Regions from separate parts of the Homo sapiens genome. Here region 2 is reported to be linked to region 1. Evidence: microRNA targets listed by miRTarBase, many of them from high-throughput screens and not tested one by one. Region 1 holds a microRNA gene; the other region holds the end of a gene's coding sequence.

Region 1 (4,702 bases):
ATTTTACATTTTTTCATGTTCCTAAAGTGCAATTTACCTGTATGTCAGCTTATCAGACTATGTTGTGTATTTAATGACTTGTCTGTTATTCTCAGTGAGACAGGAAACTCCTTAAGGATAGGGTCTGTGTTAGGTTTATCCCAGGATCCTACTGCACAAAGTAGATTCACAGTAAATATTAGTACAGTTAAATCATATAGTCCACAGTCACACAGACAGTCAGCAACAGAGTGACAACCAGACCACACCACCTTCCAAAACTGGTATTGTTGCTAATGAAACATAGTAAAAGCAATGGAAATATATGGTTTGGTCTAATTTTGTACTTTCAGATTTTCATTGGAACTACAAGATACCACCAATATTTCCATTGTTGTATTCTCACCAATTCAATGTTTTAAGGAAGAAAAATTATGATATGAGAAATTAGTATATAACTCACAAAGGGCAATGTATCAAGTTAATTTTATAAAATCAAACGAATTGTGTGAATTATTGTTTCTAAAAATAAGCAATATTAGAATGATAAAGAAAGTGTTGTATGAGGCTTGAAGATAGGAATAGCTTTCATCGCTCCTTCAGGGACATCCTACTTCTATGACCACCATTAACTCTTCAAGCCTCTATTTCTTCATCTGTAAAATGTCAAACATTTGTTGAGTGTTGAGCACCAACAGTGTGCTTTGTATTGCTAAATTAACTTATACTAAGCATATAATCTCATATAATTTTATGACAAGCATATGGGGTTGATATTATTTCCATTTTATATGTAAGGAAACTGAAGCTCGGAAATTATTCAAATCACTTAACTAAAGATGCACAGCTAGCCACTATGTATGGCAGAGGCAGAATTCAAACCCAATTTGTCAGAGGTAAAGCAAATTTGGTTTCTATATTTTCTATTCCAGAAGTAGTGGTAAGAATTAAATAAAGTGATAGATGTCAAATCCCCTGATATAACACATATAACACTGGATTTGCTCTACAAATGTCCCTTTCTTTCTCATTTTCTTCTCTGCTCATGGAATAATGGAATTGCATCAAATAAAGAATGAGGGTTGGGCGTGGTGGCTCACACCTATGATCCCAGCACTTTGGGAGGCCAAAGTCGGTGGATTGCTTGAGCCCAGGAGTTTGAGACTGGCAACAGGGTGAAAGCCCACCTCTACAAAAAATACAAAAATTAGCCAGGTGTGGTGGCACACACCTGTTGTCCCAGCCTCTTGAGAGTCTGAGGTGGAAGGACTGATTGAGCTCATGAGGTTGAGGCCGCAGTGAGCCATGATCGCACCATGGCACTCCAGCCTGGGCGAAACAGCAAGACTGTCTCCAAAAAACAAAACAAAACAAAAAATTCCAAAAGCCAAAACCCAAATCAAAAAAAAGAATGAGAAGATCTGGGTTCCAGAAAGGTTTTTAGTATCAAGTGGGGATAATGAGACCATGACTACGAAGGAGCTTTAAAATTTCAAAAGCCCTTACAAATGTAAATTTTTGTTACTCATTAAATGAACAATCACTACAGTATGCACTTGCTTGTGTGGCATTCTCAGATTTTGGTTCCAAAGAGATAAGTGACATTTTATGTTGAGGGCTCAACTCTACATACATCTGTTTAAACCCATCTCTAAGGGAAAAAAAAACCAAAAACAAAAAAACAAACAAAAAAAAACACTTGAATTTCAAAAACATATTATTTATTATTTTGACTTTTTTCTTTGCTAACACAGGTAAAATGACTAAAGTCTAAATTAATTGATTCTAGCCAGGTGGTCTCTGAATTCCTTCCAGAGAGTCAAGTCTATGTATTCAATGACATTACGGAGCTGAATACCATAAGAAACTATCCTGTCTCTCACAGTTTGTCTCTAACTTTCAAAAAATTTCTGTAATTTGAACTTGAGCTATCTGGTCCTTGAGTTTGGATATGGACATTCAGAGAAATATACAGAAATTCAAAGGCCATTGCTCTGTTTTCTGGTTAGTTTTATCTGACTCAGTAGCATCTTTTCTCTTTAACATACACACACACACACACACACACACACACACACACACACACACATTTATGATCAAAGAAATGCCAAAAAGTATGCAGATGTAATATAAGCCAATCATCTAAATGTTTAAAAAATATACAGATGTTAGATTTAATGTAGATAAACCATCTGGCAGATCTGCTTTGTTTTTTACTTTTTATCCAGCTGTTGGATTCTGTGGAAGGACAGCCTAGGTCTATACTTAGATGCGCAAAGAAAATGATGTCAGATGTATATTGCTAGTCCTCTGGAAAACACTTCCTATTCAATAGGTTGTAGGCACCATTAGTGTTCTTGAGAGAGAAAAACAGAAATTCCATAGAGAAATGATTTTTATTTGGAACTGCCTACATTAGAACACATTTCATGGACTATGTTTTTTCATTAATGCATCCTCTTAAAATAATATAGAAATTTAAAGTAAGAATATAATTCCTACTAGCAAAATTTCCATATTCACTTTGACAGCAAGTTAATAAATATTTACTTCCAGGGAGCAAATCATCTTTGGCAGGGTGAAAAAGAGTGCTGCATCAAACCAGGACCAACTTAGAGACCAGAAGATGTTCTACCAAATACTTGTGTCCCTCTTCTAATATCAGCAAACTCACATGTGATGAGGCACCAAAATAAGAAACAGAGGTGGCCCATCAGTCTTTAGGATTGAAATTTGTTTTGAGTCCATTTTATAAAAGTTAAAGACCTCTAGGCTTAATAATTGGGTTTTCAAAAATTCACAACTAAAAAGAAAAACCTCTTTTTCTTTCCAGATAGTGTATATTCTTTTTCCTTAAAAAAACCTAACTACATATTAAAAGGAAAAACTAACCAACATAATAAATGTTACTTCTCTCCTCAATTTCTGTGATTTTTTTTTTACATATTCGGAAGTCATAAGAGGTAAACAAATCTCCTATAATGAAGCAGTTGATGGCCAGTGAAAATGAATGGATGCAGCAAATATTTTGTTAACAATAACATAGCCACAAAATCATAGTACATATACAAAACTCTTAAAAATTATTAAAGGATGCCATGAGATAAAGCAGGAGAAAAAAAACACTGGTGAACAAAAACAATCAGATGCTCTGGAAAGAGTAAGGAGAAAAAGATGGGCATGAAAATTTATAGACAGTTTGAGGGTAGGTTTTCAAAGTGGCATGTGACAGAGCCAAGCACAAATCCTCTTACTTATTAACGGGATTTGTCCCTGTACCTGTCACACATTGCTTTGAAAATATCTGCCTCTGTGAAAGGTATACTGCTTCTCTCCGTCAGTTTTACTCTTAAGAGACTAATGTATAATCTCTTTAGGTTTCATCTTTTGTATTTCTGTGCATATGACAAATTGTTTTGAACACTCTTCATCCATACACATAAGAAAGTAGGCACTAAGGGCTTATCACTGCATATTTAAAAATCCCTGAGATACTATTTTCCTCATTGGAAATAATTGTTCTATTAAAATAATCTCTGGATTTATCACTGAAGAATTTTCAACTAATGCATTCATGTCTTGATGCCGTGAGGCAATTGTTCTCAACTTTATCTGATCCAGTTCCTCCTTTTTATAACAAATACTTTGTAACCCGTTTACTATAACAAAATGAAATTCATAGATATTATAACCACTTCAAGAATATCATAGAAAAAGTCAATACAATGCCCCAACTATAAAATAAAAGAAATAAAAAGAAACAACTTTGTAATATTAATAAAATAGTATATATTTTGAAATGTAAATATTCTAGCACTGCCACATAATGAAGACATGAAGTCAAGTGCTGATACATGTGCACAGAATCATGATAAATTTGCAAAGGCATCAGCCACTAATGCAAACTAAAGTAAGATTGTTGTATTGATGCAGCAAACACCATAGAGTTGCCATCAATGAACAACAATTGGTAAACTTCGAAATAACAATTTCCAATTAATTTATGAGAGAGTTTGATTTCTGAAAAGTTCATTACATATTAAACAATGTAAAAAATCTTCTAATTCCATGTAAATGAAAATAAAATCAAAGTGTGGATAATATTACATAGGTTTTTCAACCACATGAATGTCTGATAGGATACTCAAAAGTTCTGTGAGCATAGGAGAGTTTTTCAATGAGAGCCTCCCGCAAGCAAGCTGCAAATGTCTATCATCCCTTGACTCCACCCAGGAGTCAGTGGTGGCCCTGGCTCCACACCATGCAATTTTTATAAAAACCTAATACATCCCTGCAAGTTTCCAAGGTTTTCTTTAGGGTGTGATACTCCTCCCACTCCGTGAGAATCACTGTGATAAGATTACAAAGAAGGAGAATTATAACAAATAATGGTACCTGTACCTTTTTGTTTTTATTTCGTTTTCCCTTTACTAAAGTGAGGCAGAGCTTCACTTTAAAAAATCCATCATGCAACTGACATTGAATTTACATATTTGTGGCAGCAACACTCAAAAGAGTCTTCTCATCATAACTTTTAGTTAAAAATAAATGAACTTAGCACATGTATTAGGAACATTTGAGTGAAACTTACTTAATGGAGTATCACACATGATATGTTTGACTACTTAACTTTAAAATAGAAGAATAGACTTTTTCTTAGGAATTACATTCTATACACATAAACCATTTATCCAGACATGCACAAAAAAATATAATTTGTAAA
Region 2 (4,000 bases), not on the chromosome of region 1:
CAAATGTGATGATTTTGACGAGGCCTTCAGTCAAGCTTCATCTTATGCAAAACAAAGGAGAATTCATATGGGAGAGAAACATCACAAGTGTGATGATTGTGGCAAAGCCTTTACTTCACATTCACATCGCATTAGACATCAGAGAATCCATACCGGACAGAAATCTTACAAATGTCATAAGCGTGGCAAGGTCTTCAGTTAGAGGTCACTCCTTGCAAAACATCAGAAAATTCATTCCTGAGATAATTGTTCCAAATGCAATGAGTATAGCAAACCATCAAGCATTAATTGACATTAGAGTCAATTCAGCATTGACTTGAGTTTCAGTTGACTTGACATTGAGTTCAAGCATTAATTGACATTAAAGTGTTTACGTTAAGAGGATTGGGCTGGGCAGGGTGGCTTATACCTGTAATCCCAGCACTGTGGGAGGTCAAGACGGATAGATCACTTGAGGTCAGGAGTTTGAGACCATCCTGGCCAAAAGACGTGAGCCACTTTTCCTAGCCTGTTTTTTGTTTCTGATAGGGATTTTTATGGGTATTGTGTTGAATCTAAATCACATTGGGTTATATAATCATTTAACAATATTAATCTTTCCAATCCATCAATATGGGTCATATCTCTATTTATATAAGTTTTTAATCATTTTGATCAATGTTTGTAGATTTCAAGGTACAAACTTCTCACCTTTTTACGTTTATTCCTAAATATTTCTTACTGTAAGTTCTCTAGCAAATGGAAGTGTTTTCTTAATTTTCTTTTAACATTGTTTATTGTTAATGTATGGAAATTTAACTAATTTTTGGTACTGATATTGTATTCTGCAAATACACTGTGTTTATTAGCTTCAGTAGTATTTTAGTTGACTCTGTGATTTTCTACACAGCAGATCATGTCATCTACAAACAAATACAATTTTACTTCTTTCTTTCTGAAAAAAAAAATGGATAACTAATACAGATGCCTACCCTGAAACATGCCATTTTTTGATCCTTATGTTTTGGGATCTTTCTCACTACCACTGACCAACTTTTCATATCCTGAAGATATGAAGCAGTGAAAATAAGAGAATTCAAGACAGGCTAAAAAAAAAAAAATGCCAGGTGCAGTGGCTCATGCCTGTAATCCCAGCACTTTGGGTGGATCACTTGAGGTTAGGAGTTTGAGACCAGCCTGGTCAACATGGCAAAACCCCACCTCTACAAAAAATACAAAAATTAGCCAGGCGTAGTGGCACGCACCAGTAGTCCCAGCTACTGGGGAGGCTGAGGCAGGAGAATCACTTGAACCTGGGAGGCAGAGGTCGCAGTGAGCCAGGATCGCCCCACTGCACTCCAACCTAGGCAACAGAGCGAGACTCCATCTCAAAAAAAAAAAAAAAAAGATATGTCAGTGTGGTGTAGGCAAAAAGTATGGACACATAGAAATATGGAACAGAATAAATAATCTAGAAATAGTTTCATATGAATATAGTCACTTGATTTTGACAGAAATGCAAAGGCAATTCAATGCAGCTTTTTGTATTGGTTTCCTATTGCTACTATAAAATATTACCATAAACATAGTGGTTATTATAAAACAATACAACTTGATTATTTTACCGTTCTGGCAGTCAGAAGCCCAAAAATGGGTCTTACATGGTAAAATCAAGGTATCAGTAGAGCCATGTTGATTCTGGAGGCTCTAGGGGAGAATCTATTACTTGCCTTTTCCAGCATCTAGAGGCTGCCCACATTCCTTGGTTCCTGGTTTTTGGCCCCTTTCAGCAAGGACATCACTCCAATCTCTGGTTCTGTCATTGCATCTCCTTCTCTGACTCTGACCCTCCTGCATTTTTCATAAGGACCCTTGTGATTACATTGAGCACACCTGGATGATCTTTTCAACAAGTGATGGAACTAGACATCTATATGCAAAAAACAAACAAACCTTGGCCAGGCATGGTGACTCATGCCTGTAATCCCAGCACTTTGGGAGGCCAAGGCAGGAACATCACTTGAGGCTGGGATTTCAAGACCAGCTTGGGCTACATAGCAAGGTAACATCTGTCCAGAAAGTTTTTTAAATAAAATATTAGCTGGGTGTGGATGGCACATGCCTGTAGTCCTAGTTACTCAAGAGGCTGAGGCAGGAGTATCACTTGAACACAGAAGTTCAAAGCTGCAGTGAGCTGTGATCATGCCACTGCACTCCAGCCCAGGCAATAGAGCAAGACCCTGTCTCTAAAAAATAAACAAATACTGAAAATATTTACTCTACAAAAGATATGGGTAAGGAAATGAAAGGTGAGCCAAAGACGGGAAAATATTTGCAAATCATGTGTTTGACCAAGGACTTGTTTCCCGCATATTCAAAGAACCCTCAAAATGCAGAAGTAAGAAAACCTTATTTTATTTTATTTTATTTTATTTTATTTTATTTTATTTTATTTTATTTTATTTTATTTTTGAGACAGAGTTCACTCTTGTTGACCAGGCTGGAGTGCAATGGCACGATCTCAGCTCACCACAACTTCCACCTCCCAGGTTCAAGCACTTCTCCTGCCTCAGCCTCCCGGTAGCTGGGATTACAGGCATGCGCCACCATGCCCGGCTAATTTTGTATTTTTAGTAGAGACAGGGTTTCTCCATGTTGGTCAGGCTGGTTTCAAACTCCTGACCTCAGGTGATCCACCCGCCTCGGCCTCCCAAAGTGCTGGGATTACAGGCATGAGCCACCGCGCCCAGACAAGAAAACCCTTTTTTAATCACAAAAAATGTGAGCATTCACTTCACCAAATAAGATATACAGATGTCCGAAAAAGCACATCAAGAGATGTTCAACATTACTAGTCATTAGGGAAATACAAGTAAAACTACAATGAGATACTACTACATACCTATTAACATGACTACACACACATACACACACACACACACACACACACAAAACTGAGGATACCAAGTGCTGGTGAGGATGTGGAGTAATTGGAACTCTTACACATTGCTGGTGAGAGTGCAAAATAATACAGTCACTTTGGAAAACAGTTTGACAGTGTCTTTTAAAGTTAAACATACAATATGATCTAGTTATTCCACTTCTAGATATTTATACAAATATAATGAAAACCTATGTTTGTACAAAAAAAAACTTGTTTGTGAATGTTTATTGATGCCTTATTCATAATCATCAAAACCCGGAAACAACCCAAAGATCCCTCAACTGGGGAATGAATTAAAAATGTAAACCAACTATGGTACATGTATACAATAAATGAGTACTCAGCAATAAATGAGAGTAAACTATTGTTACATGCAATATTGCAAGTGAATCTCATATGCATTATGTTCAGTGAAAGAAGCCAGACTCAACCACACACTATATGATTTTCTTGATAATGACATTCTGGAAAAGGCAAAACTATAGGAACAGAGTTGAGAGTAGTGATTGCCAAGAGTTAAGAGTGGAGCAAGTGTTTGACTAGAAAGAGGTAGCTAGACAGAAATGTATTTGAACGTGGGTGGAGTGATGGAACTGTCCTATAACTTACTTGTGGCAGTGGTTACAAGAGCTCCAGGCCTCATAGAAACTCATAGACTGTCCACCAAAAATAGTGAAATTTATTAAATGTGAACTTCTCAAACAAATTTTTAAAAAAGAAAAAGGTATATGAGGTCAAATGTCCTGTATGCCTTCATGTTAGAGGATGAGTTCCCTATGTCAGGGAAAAAAAGGATGGATGGATGGATGGATGGATGGATGGATGGATGGATGGATGGTCTGCCAGCCTAACTGCATGCCTGCTGAAAATTTTCAGTGATATTTCTAAGATCTTTTGGGTAGGTGTGCAGATGTCTTTTCTATACACCTTCTTCAAGTGACAGTAATGTGAGCATTTGATTAAATGAGACACCAAATCAGAAAATTCTTTATAAATTGAAAGTGTACTGCAAACACCAGATATGTTACTGCCAAAGGAAGAAACAGTCTAGATATTCATGTGTCTTAAGATTGAGGC

Evidence for each region. Region 1 holds the annotated microRNA hsa-miR-2113 (AUUUGUGCUUGGCUCUGUCAC, at 3,205-3,225, opposite strand). A microRNA usually pairs through its seed, bases 2 to 8, with sites in the 3' UTR of a target mRNA and lowers its output. Matches are read on the target gene's strand: a 7mer-m8 pairs with bases 2 to 8, a 7mer-A1 pairs with bases 2 to 7 and ends in A, and an 8mer does both.
Region 2: the mRNA of ZNF860 is a reported target of hsa-miR-2113. The part of its 3' UTR that is shown has no 7-base or 8-base seed match.

What each region holds. Positions count from the first base shown.
Region 1 is chr6:98,023,109-98,027,810 of GRCh38, reverse strand. It overlaps MIR2113 (microRNA 2113), which reads right to left and starts at 3,280; the gene lies at 3,190-3,280.
Region 2 is chr3:31,990,777-31,994,776 of GRCh38, forward strand. It overlaps ZNF860 (zinc finger protein 860), which reads left to right. Exons shown (of 2, transcript NM_001137674.3): 2 at 1-947. The coding sequence ends at 202. It also overlaps a transcript of OSBPL10 not described here. Among named protein-coding and RNA genes, the nearest start is that of ZNF860, 11 kb to the left of the region's middle.